Linked DNA regions of Homo sapiens. The gene in region 1 interacts genetically with each later gene. Each region holds a gene or a part of one and is shown in the gene's direction. Other genes may lie near its edges. The genes, in order: ING4 and WEE1.

Region 1 (3,817 bases):
CCTTGGCCTCCCAGAATGCTGGGATTACAGGCGTGAGCCACTGTGCCCAGCAAGTAGAGGCATTTTTAAAGTTTTAGGTGGAGTCTTGGCAAGAGATTTCTCTTGTACTGGGGTGACAAATATTCATGCATTTATTCAAGTATTTACTGAGTACCTGCTCTTTGCAAGTCATAATTCTAAACACTATGGAAACAGGAGAGAATATGATAGCCATGTTCGGCCTGGGGAGACAGATACCAAATAACTAATTACACATTATTTTTTTTAATTTTTTTGTTTTTTGAAACAGTCTTGCTCTTTTGCCCGGGCTGCAACCTCTACCTCCCTGGTTCAAGCAATTGTCCTGCCTCAGTCTCTTGAGTAACTGGAACTACAGCCACAGGCCACCATGCCCATCTATTTTTTTTTTTTTTTTTTGAGACAGAGTCTCGCTCTGTCGCCCAGGCTGGAGTGCAGTGGAGCGATCTCGGCTCACTGAAAGCTCCACCTCCTGGATGCACGCCACTCTCCTGCCTCAGCCTCCCGAGTAGCTGGGACTACAGGCGCCCGCCACCACGGCCAGCTAATTTTTTTGTATTTTTAGTAGAGACGGGGTTTCACCATGTTAGCCAGGATGGTCTCAATCTCCTGACCTCGTAATCTGCTCTCCTCGGCCACCCAAAGTGCCGGGATTACAGGTGTGAGCCACCGCGCCTGGCCTAATTTTTGTTTTGTTTTGTTTTTGAGATGGAGTCGCACTCTGTCACCCAGGCTGAAGTGCAGTGGTGCGATCTCAGCTCACTGCAACCTCCACCTCCCGGATTTAAGCAATTCTTGTGCCTCAGCCTCCCAAGTATCTGGGATTACAGGTTTCACCATGTTGGCCAGGCTGGTCTTGAACTCCTGGCTTCAAGTGAGCCACCCGCCTCGGCCTCCCAAAGTGCTAGAATTACAGGCATGAGCCACCGTGCCTGGCCCTAATTTTTGTATTTTTAGTAGAGATGGGGTTTTGCCAGGCTGCCAAGGCTGGTCTTGAACTCCTGGCCTTGAGTGATCCACCTGCCTTCCAGAGTGCTGGATTACAGGCATGGGCCACCGCACCCAGCCAACTAATTACACATTTATTTAATTACAGTTGGATAAGTGCTTTAAAAAGGTGGCTAGAATACCTTGACATAGATCGAGGGCAGTTAACAGAGTCTGGGAAAGTTGAGTTTGAGCTGAACTTTGGAAGAACGAACAGGAATTTAATAGGCCAAGAGGGATGGGGTGGATGGGATGAGGAAAAGCGAGCGGTGCATTCCAACTAGAGAGAACAGCATGTGGAAAGCCAAATGGCAGGAGGAGCACAGGCCAGTTTGAGGCAGTGCGAGGAGGCCAGTATGGGCAAAGCAGAGCACAAAGGGAGACTGACATGAGTTCAGGCTGGTGTGAGGTAAGCAAGGGCCAGAAAGCGCAGAACATCTTCAGAGCAGTAGGAAGTGACCAGAAGGTTATAAGCGGGAGAGTGACTTGATTAGGTTTGCATTTTTTATTTTTGTGTTTGTTTTTGTTTTTGTTTTTTTGAGTCAGTGTCTTGCTCTGTCATCCAGGCTGGAGTGCATTGGCGTGATCTCGGCTCACTGAAATGTCCACCTCCCAGGTTCAAGGGATTTTTGTGCCCCAGCCTCCCAAGTAGCTGGGATTACAGGCATGTGCACCAAGCCTGGCTAAGTTTTTGTATTTTTGGTAGAGACAGAGTTTCACCATGTTGCCCAGGCTGGTCTTGAACTCCTCAGCTCAGCTGATGCGCCCACCTGGGCCTCCCAAAGTGCTGGGATTACAGGCATGAGCCACCGTGCCTGGCCAGGTTTGCATTTTTTAAAAAGGACATTCTGGCTACTATATGGAAGTAGATTGGAAGTGTTATGTGTATAATAGAGGATACCAGGAGACTATTTGTAATTTGAGGACAAAGAGCTTGGAGGCAGAGATGGAAAATAAAAGAAAGGGGCCCGTCTTAGTGGCTCATGCCAGTAATCCCAGCACTTTGGGAGATCAAGGCGGGCGGATCACCTGAGGCCAGGAGTTCAAGACCAGTCTGGCCAAAATGGTGAAACCCTGTGTCTACTAAAAATACAAAAATTAGTCGGGTGTGGTGGCGCGCGCCTGTGGTCCCAGCTACTCCAGAGGCTGAGGCAGGAGAATCACTTGAACCCAGGAGGTGGAGGCTGCAGTGAGCCAAGATCGTGCCACTGCACTCCAGCCTGGGCAACAGAGCCAGACTCCGTCTCAAAAAACAAAAAAGGAAAAGAAAGGGAAGAGCTTTTTTTTTTTTTTTTGGAGACAGAGTCTCGCTCTGTCACCAGGCTGGAGTGCAGTAGTGCAGTCTTGGCTCACTGCAACCTCTGCCTCCCAGGTTCAAGTGATTCTCCTGCCTCAGCCTCCTGAATAGCTGGGATTACAGGTACGTGCCACCACACCTGGCTAATTTTTATATTTTTAGTAGAAACAGGCTTTCACCATGTTGGCCAGGCTGGTCTCGAACTCCTGACCTCGTGATCCACCCGCCTCAACCTCCCAAAGTGCTGGGATTACAGGCTTGAGCCACCACACCTGACGGGAAGAGCTTATTTATAAAGGAAGGTCACTGAAGGCGAAAAGGGTGGGATAGCCATGCAGAAATGGAAAGGTTTTGTAGAGAAAGAGTTAAGCATGGCCTGTCATGAGAGAACTGATCCATCCTGTCACAGATAAATCCAGAGGTTCAGAGGAAGGAAAACTGAGCTGCACTTTATTTTTTGTTTGTTTGTTTGTTTGTTTGAGATGGAGTCTCACTGTGTCGCCCAGGCTGGAGTGCAGTGGTGCGATCTCGGCTCACTGCAAACTCCGCCTCCCAGGTTCATGCCATTCTCCTGCCTCAGCCTCCTGAGTAGCTGGGAGTACAGGCGCCCGCCATCGCACCTGGCTAATTTTTTGTATTTTTAGTAGAGACGGGGTTTCACCATGTTAGCCAGGATGGTCTCAATCTCCTGACCTCGTGATCTGCTCTCCTCGGCCTCCCAAAGTGCTGGGATTACAGGTGTGAGCCACCATGCCTGGCCATTTGTTTGTTTTTGAGACAGGGACTTGCTCTATTGCCCAGGCTGGAGTGCAGTGGCTCAATCACGGCTCACTGCAACCTCTGCCTCCTGGATTCAAGTGATTCTCATGCCTCAGCCTCCCAAGTAGCTGGGATTAGAGATGCCCACCGTCACACTAGGCTAATTTTCATATTTTTAATAGAGATGGAGGTCTCGCCATGTTGGCCAGGCTGGTCTTGAACTCCTGGCCTTGAGTGATCCACCCCCTTGGCCTCCCAAAGTGCTGGGATTGCAGGCGTGAGCCACCATGTCCGGCCTGAACTGCACTTTAAAAGGAGCTGTAAGGCCTATGCATAGTCAGTCCTGTGATTGTTTCTCTCTCTTCCCTAGGTATTGAAAACCTTCCCTTTGAATTACAGAGAAACTTTCAGCTCATGAGGGACCTAGACCAAAGAACAGAGGGTATGTATAGAGTAAAAAGTTTTTGTATCTAATGAGTGTGTGTAATCATTTATTTTTCTACTTGATGTTACCGTATCATCTGGTATGATCTGGAGAACTGTGGCTTCTCTCGCTCCTTTTTTACGCTCTTGGAATTCTTAAAACAGGATAATGATCCTCATTTCTGTGTCAGCTTTTTCATAACAAATAGAGTATTGTGAAAACGCCTCAAGAATTCAAAGATGCTGTGTTCTTTATGTCTTCCTGGAGAATAATTAGCCAGGCTGGCTCACACCTGTAATCCCAGCACTTTGGGAGGCCTAGGCGGGCAGGTA
Region 2 (3,817 bases), on another chromosome or scaffold:
AGAGTAGTATAAATTATAACTATACTAAAATACTGTCTTTTTACCTATAACATTTATAGACTTGTCAAGGGTATGGGGAAACAGGTATGCTCATGCATTGACAATGGGCATATATATTGGTACAGCCTTCTCTGTGGAGAAGAGTGTGTGTGTGTGTGTGTGTGTGTGTGTAAAACACACCATCTCCATATATTACAAATGTGCATACCCTTTAACCCAGCAATTTGGCTTCTAGGTGATATACTAAATGTACGTGAAATTACCAATGTACAAGGTTATTTATTAGGCCATAGTATGTAATAGCAAAGGCTTGGAAATAATTTTAAAATGTCCATCAAATGAGGGACTGATAAATGCATTTCTTTCTTTCTTTCTTTTTTTTTTTTTTTTTCGGGGGACTGAGTCTCACTCTGCCACCAGGCTGGAGTGCAATGGCCCGATATCGGCTCACTGCAACCTCCGCCTCCCAGGTTCAAGCAATTCTCCTGCCTTCTGAGTAGCTGGGATTACAGGTGCACGCCACCACACCCAGCTAATTTTTGTATTTTTAGTAGAAACGGGGTTTCGCCATGTTGGCCTGCATGGTCTCGAACTCCTGACCTCGTGATCTACCTGCCTCGGCCTCCCATAGTGCTGGGATTACAGGCGTGAGCCACTGTGCCCAGCCAATAAATGCATTTCTACTCAATTATACAATGGAATTCTATAAAGACAAGAAGAAATGGGTTGTCTTTGTATATTGGTATAGAGTGATCTTTAAGATAATGAACATATGCTGTTATTTATGCAAAAAGTTGAAAAGAATACATAGACCTGAGCTGGGCGTGGTGGCAGTGCCTGTAGTCCCAGCTGCTTGGGAGTCTGAAGCAGGGAATTTGAATTTGGGTTTGGGAATTCTAGGCTGTAGTGCCGATCTATGTTGAGCATCTATGCCGATCTATGCCGATCTAAGTTGAGCATCAGTATGGTGACCTCTGTGGAGTGGGGCACCACCAGGTTGCCTAAAGAGGGGTAAACTGGCCTAAGTTGGAAACAGCACAAGTCAAAACTCCTATGCTGATAAGTAGTGGGATCAAGCCTGTGAATAGCCACTGGATTCCAGCTGGGCAACATAGATAGACCCTGTCTCTTATAAATTAAAAACAAAAACAAACAAAAAAAAAGCCAACCTGATAATACTGGTTTACTCTGAGAAAGAAACAGGTGGATTGCTGAGGTGTATGATTGAGAGAGAGACTTTACATTTTATTTTGTACCCATGCAAATGTATTACCTATTGAAAAAACAATAAAATTTTGATTTCACAAGCAGGTTGAAGGGAGAAGGTCCTATAAAATAACACTTTCTTGGTTGAGATTGGTTGGTTGAGACTCATTTGGTAAAGATGGAAGAAAGAAAATATTTCAGAAAGAAGAAAATGCTAATATTTTCTATCTTTGTTAGGTGGAAGTTTAGCTGATGCTATAAGTGAAAACTACAGAATCATGAGTTACTTTAAAGAAGCAGAGTTGAAGGATCTCCTTTTGCAAGTTGGCCGAGGCTTGAGGTATATTCATTCAATGTCTTTGGTTCACATGGATATAAAACCTAGTAAGTATTGCAGATCTTCTGACCTGTGTTCTTTGGGGTTATAGAGAATAAATTACTTCATTATGACAACATTGAAAAAATATATATCTTCTGTTTTCTCATTGTTAGTTTTAAAAGGCCTTAGATCCACTTACCAATATTGTTTTATGATTTCTATTCATCTCTTCCCTTGTTAATCCCCAAAATTTGAGATAAACTTTTTTGAGACAGTGTCTCATTCTGTGGCCCAGGCCGGAATGCAGTGGCACCATCTCCGCTCACTGCAACTTCCCCATCCCGTGCTCAAGCAGTCATCCCACCTCAGTCTTCCGAGTAGCCGGGACTATAGGCATGTGCCACCATGCCCAGATAAATTCATTTTTATTAAAAGCCAGAAATTTTTGCTGCATCTTACAGGAACTACAGGTGGGATACTAATGAGGGCACTAAAAATCTGTGTTTAAAGCCCCACTCTTCCACTAGGCCAGACCATATTAAAATTTCCCCAGTTGACTCAAGTCCTTAATAGTTGATTTGTTCAAATTAGTATCTACTTAAGGATCATGCATTGCATCTGGTTATATCAGTTTTTCTTTTTCAGAACCCATCCTCTGCTTTGTAAAAATAATATACACTTATCTTGCAAGCTATCCCTTTTTCTGGATTTGACTAGTTGCTTCTTGTATCATTTAGCTTGTTCCTTTTTCTCCTATATTTCCTATAAATTGGAAGTTATAACTAAGGATTATGGATTCAAGTTAAGCATCTTAGGCTAGATGAATTTAGTGAGGTTTTATTAATCTTTGGAAACCTGTTGATTTGTGAGAATTTCAGTCATTTTGTACAACTTTATGAGTTATATGCTAGAATTTCATATGCGTATGTTAACAAGTCACTAAAGTTTCTTCTTTCTTTTTTTCTTTTTTTGAGATGGAGTCTCGCTCTGTTGCCCAGGCTGGAGTGCAGTGGCACAGTCTCAGCTCTCTGTAACCTCTGCCTCCCACGTTCAAGCGATTCTCCTGCCTCCGCCTCCCGAGTAGCTGGGATTACAGGCATACACCACCATGCCCGGCTAATTTTTTGTATTTTTAGTAGAGACGGGTTTCACCATGTTGGCTAAGCTGGTCTTGAACTATTGACCTTGTGATCTGCCCACCATGGCCTCCCAAAGTGCTGAGATTACAGGCGTAAGCCACCGTGCCCAGCATGTTTTTTATTTTCAAAAGACAAAAATATATTTGGATTTAAGGCAGTAAATGTGAATTCTTAAGGAATAGCTGTACTCATATAAAGTGTTAGACAAATATAATAGACCCTTATAAGGTATAAAAGTTGAAAATATTAAGGGATGTGAAGTTTAAAAATCTTCAAATTTAGACCAGGTGCAGTGGCTGACGCCTGTAATCCCAGCACTCTGGCAGGCCAAGGCAGGCAGATCACGAGGCAGGAGTTCGAGACCAGCCTGGCCAATATGATGAAACCCCGTCTCTACTAAAATTACAAAAATTAGCCAGGTGTAGTGGTGCGCACCTATAGTCCTAGTTACTCGGGAGGCTGAGGCAGAAGAATTGCTTGAACCCGGGAGGCGGAGGTTGCAGTGAGCCGAGATTGCACCATTGCACTCCATCCTAGGCAACAAAGTGAGACTCCGTCTCAAAAAAAGAAAAAAAAAATTCGCCGGGCGTGGTGCCTCACGCCTGTAATCCCAGCACTTTGGGAGGCTGAGGCGGGTGGATTGCCTAAGCTTGGGAGTTCACCACCAGCCTGGACAACACGGTGAAACCTCGTCTCTACTAAAATACAAAAAATTAGCTGGGTGTGGTGGCAGGCACCTGTAGTCCCAGCTACTCTGGAGGCTGAGGCAGGAGAATTGCTTGAACCCGGGAGGAGGAAGTTGAAGTGAGCTGAGATCGCACCACTGCACTCCAGCCTGGGCGACAGAGCGAGACTGTCTCAAAAAAAAAAAAAAAAAACCTTCCAATTTACAAATACCATCACAAAATAAGTTGTCCTATAAAGAAAGTAAAACGTATAGATGACTCCAGTAAATGTAACATAAATTTAATACTAAATATTTGTGCGTGTGTGTGCGTGCACGCGCGCGCACACACACACACACACACACACACACACACACACACACACATATATATATATATATATATATATATATATATATATATATATATACTTTTTTTTTTCTTTTGAGACAGGGTCTTGCTCTGTTGCCCAGGCTGGAGTGCAGTAG

The links.
Region 2: changes in ING4 (region 1) and WEE1 are lethal when combined (synthetic lethality), as found in Homo sapiens cells (one large-scale study listed by BioGRID).

Annotation. Positions count from the first base shown.
Region 1 is NC_000012.12:6,656,413-6,660,229, reverse strand, and holds part of ING4 (inhibitor of growth protein 4), read left to right. Parts: intron 1-3,430; exon of another isoform or gene 3,431-3,431; coding exon 3,432-3,503; intron 3,504-3,817.
Region 2 is NC_000011.10:9,580,089-9,583,905, forward strand, and holds part of WEE1 (wee1-like protein kinase), read left to right. Parts: intron 1-1,443; coding exon 1,444-1,590; intron 1,591-3,817. UniProt on the Homo sapiens protein: Acts as a negative regulator of entry into mitosis (G2 to M transition) by protecting the nucleus from cytoplasmically activated cyclin B1-complexed CDK1 before the onset of mitosis by mediating phosphorylation of CDK1 on 'Tyr-15'.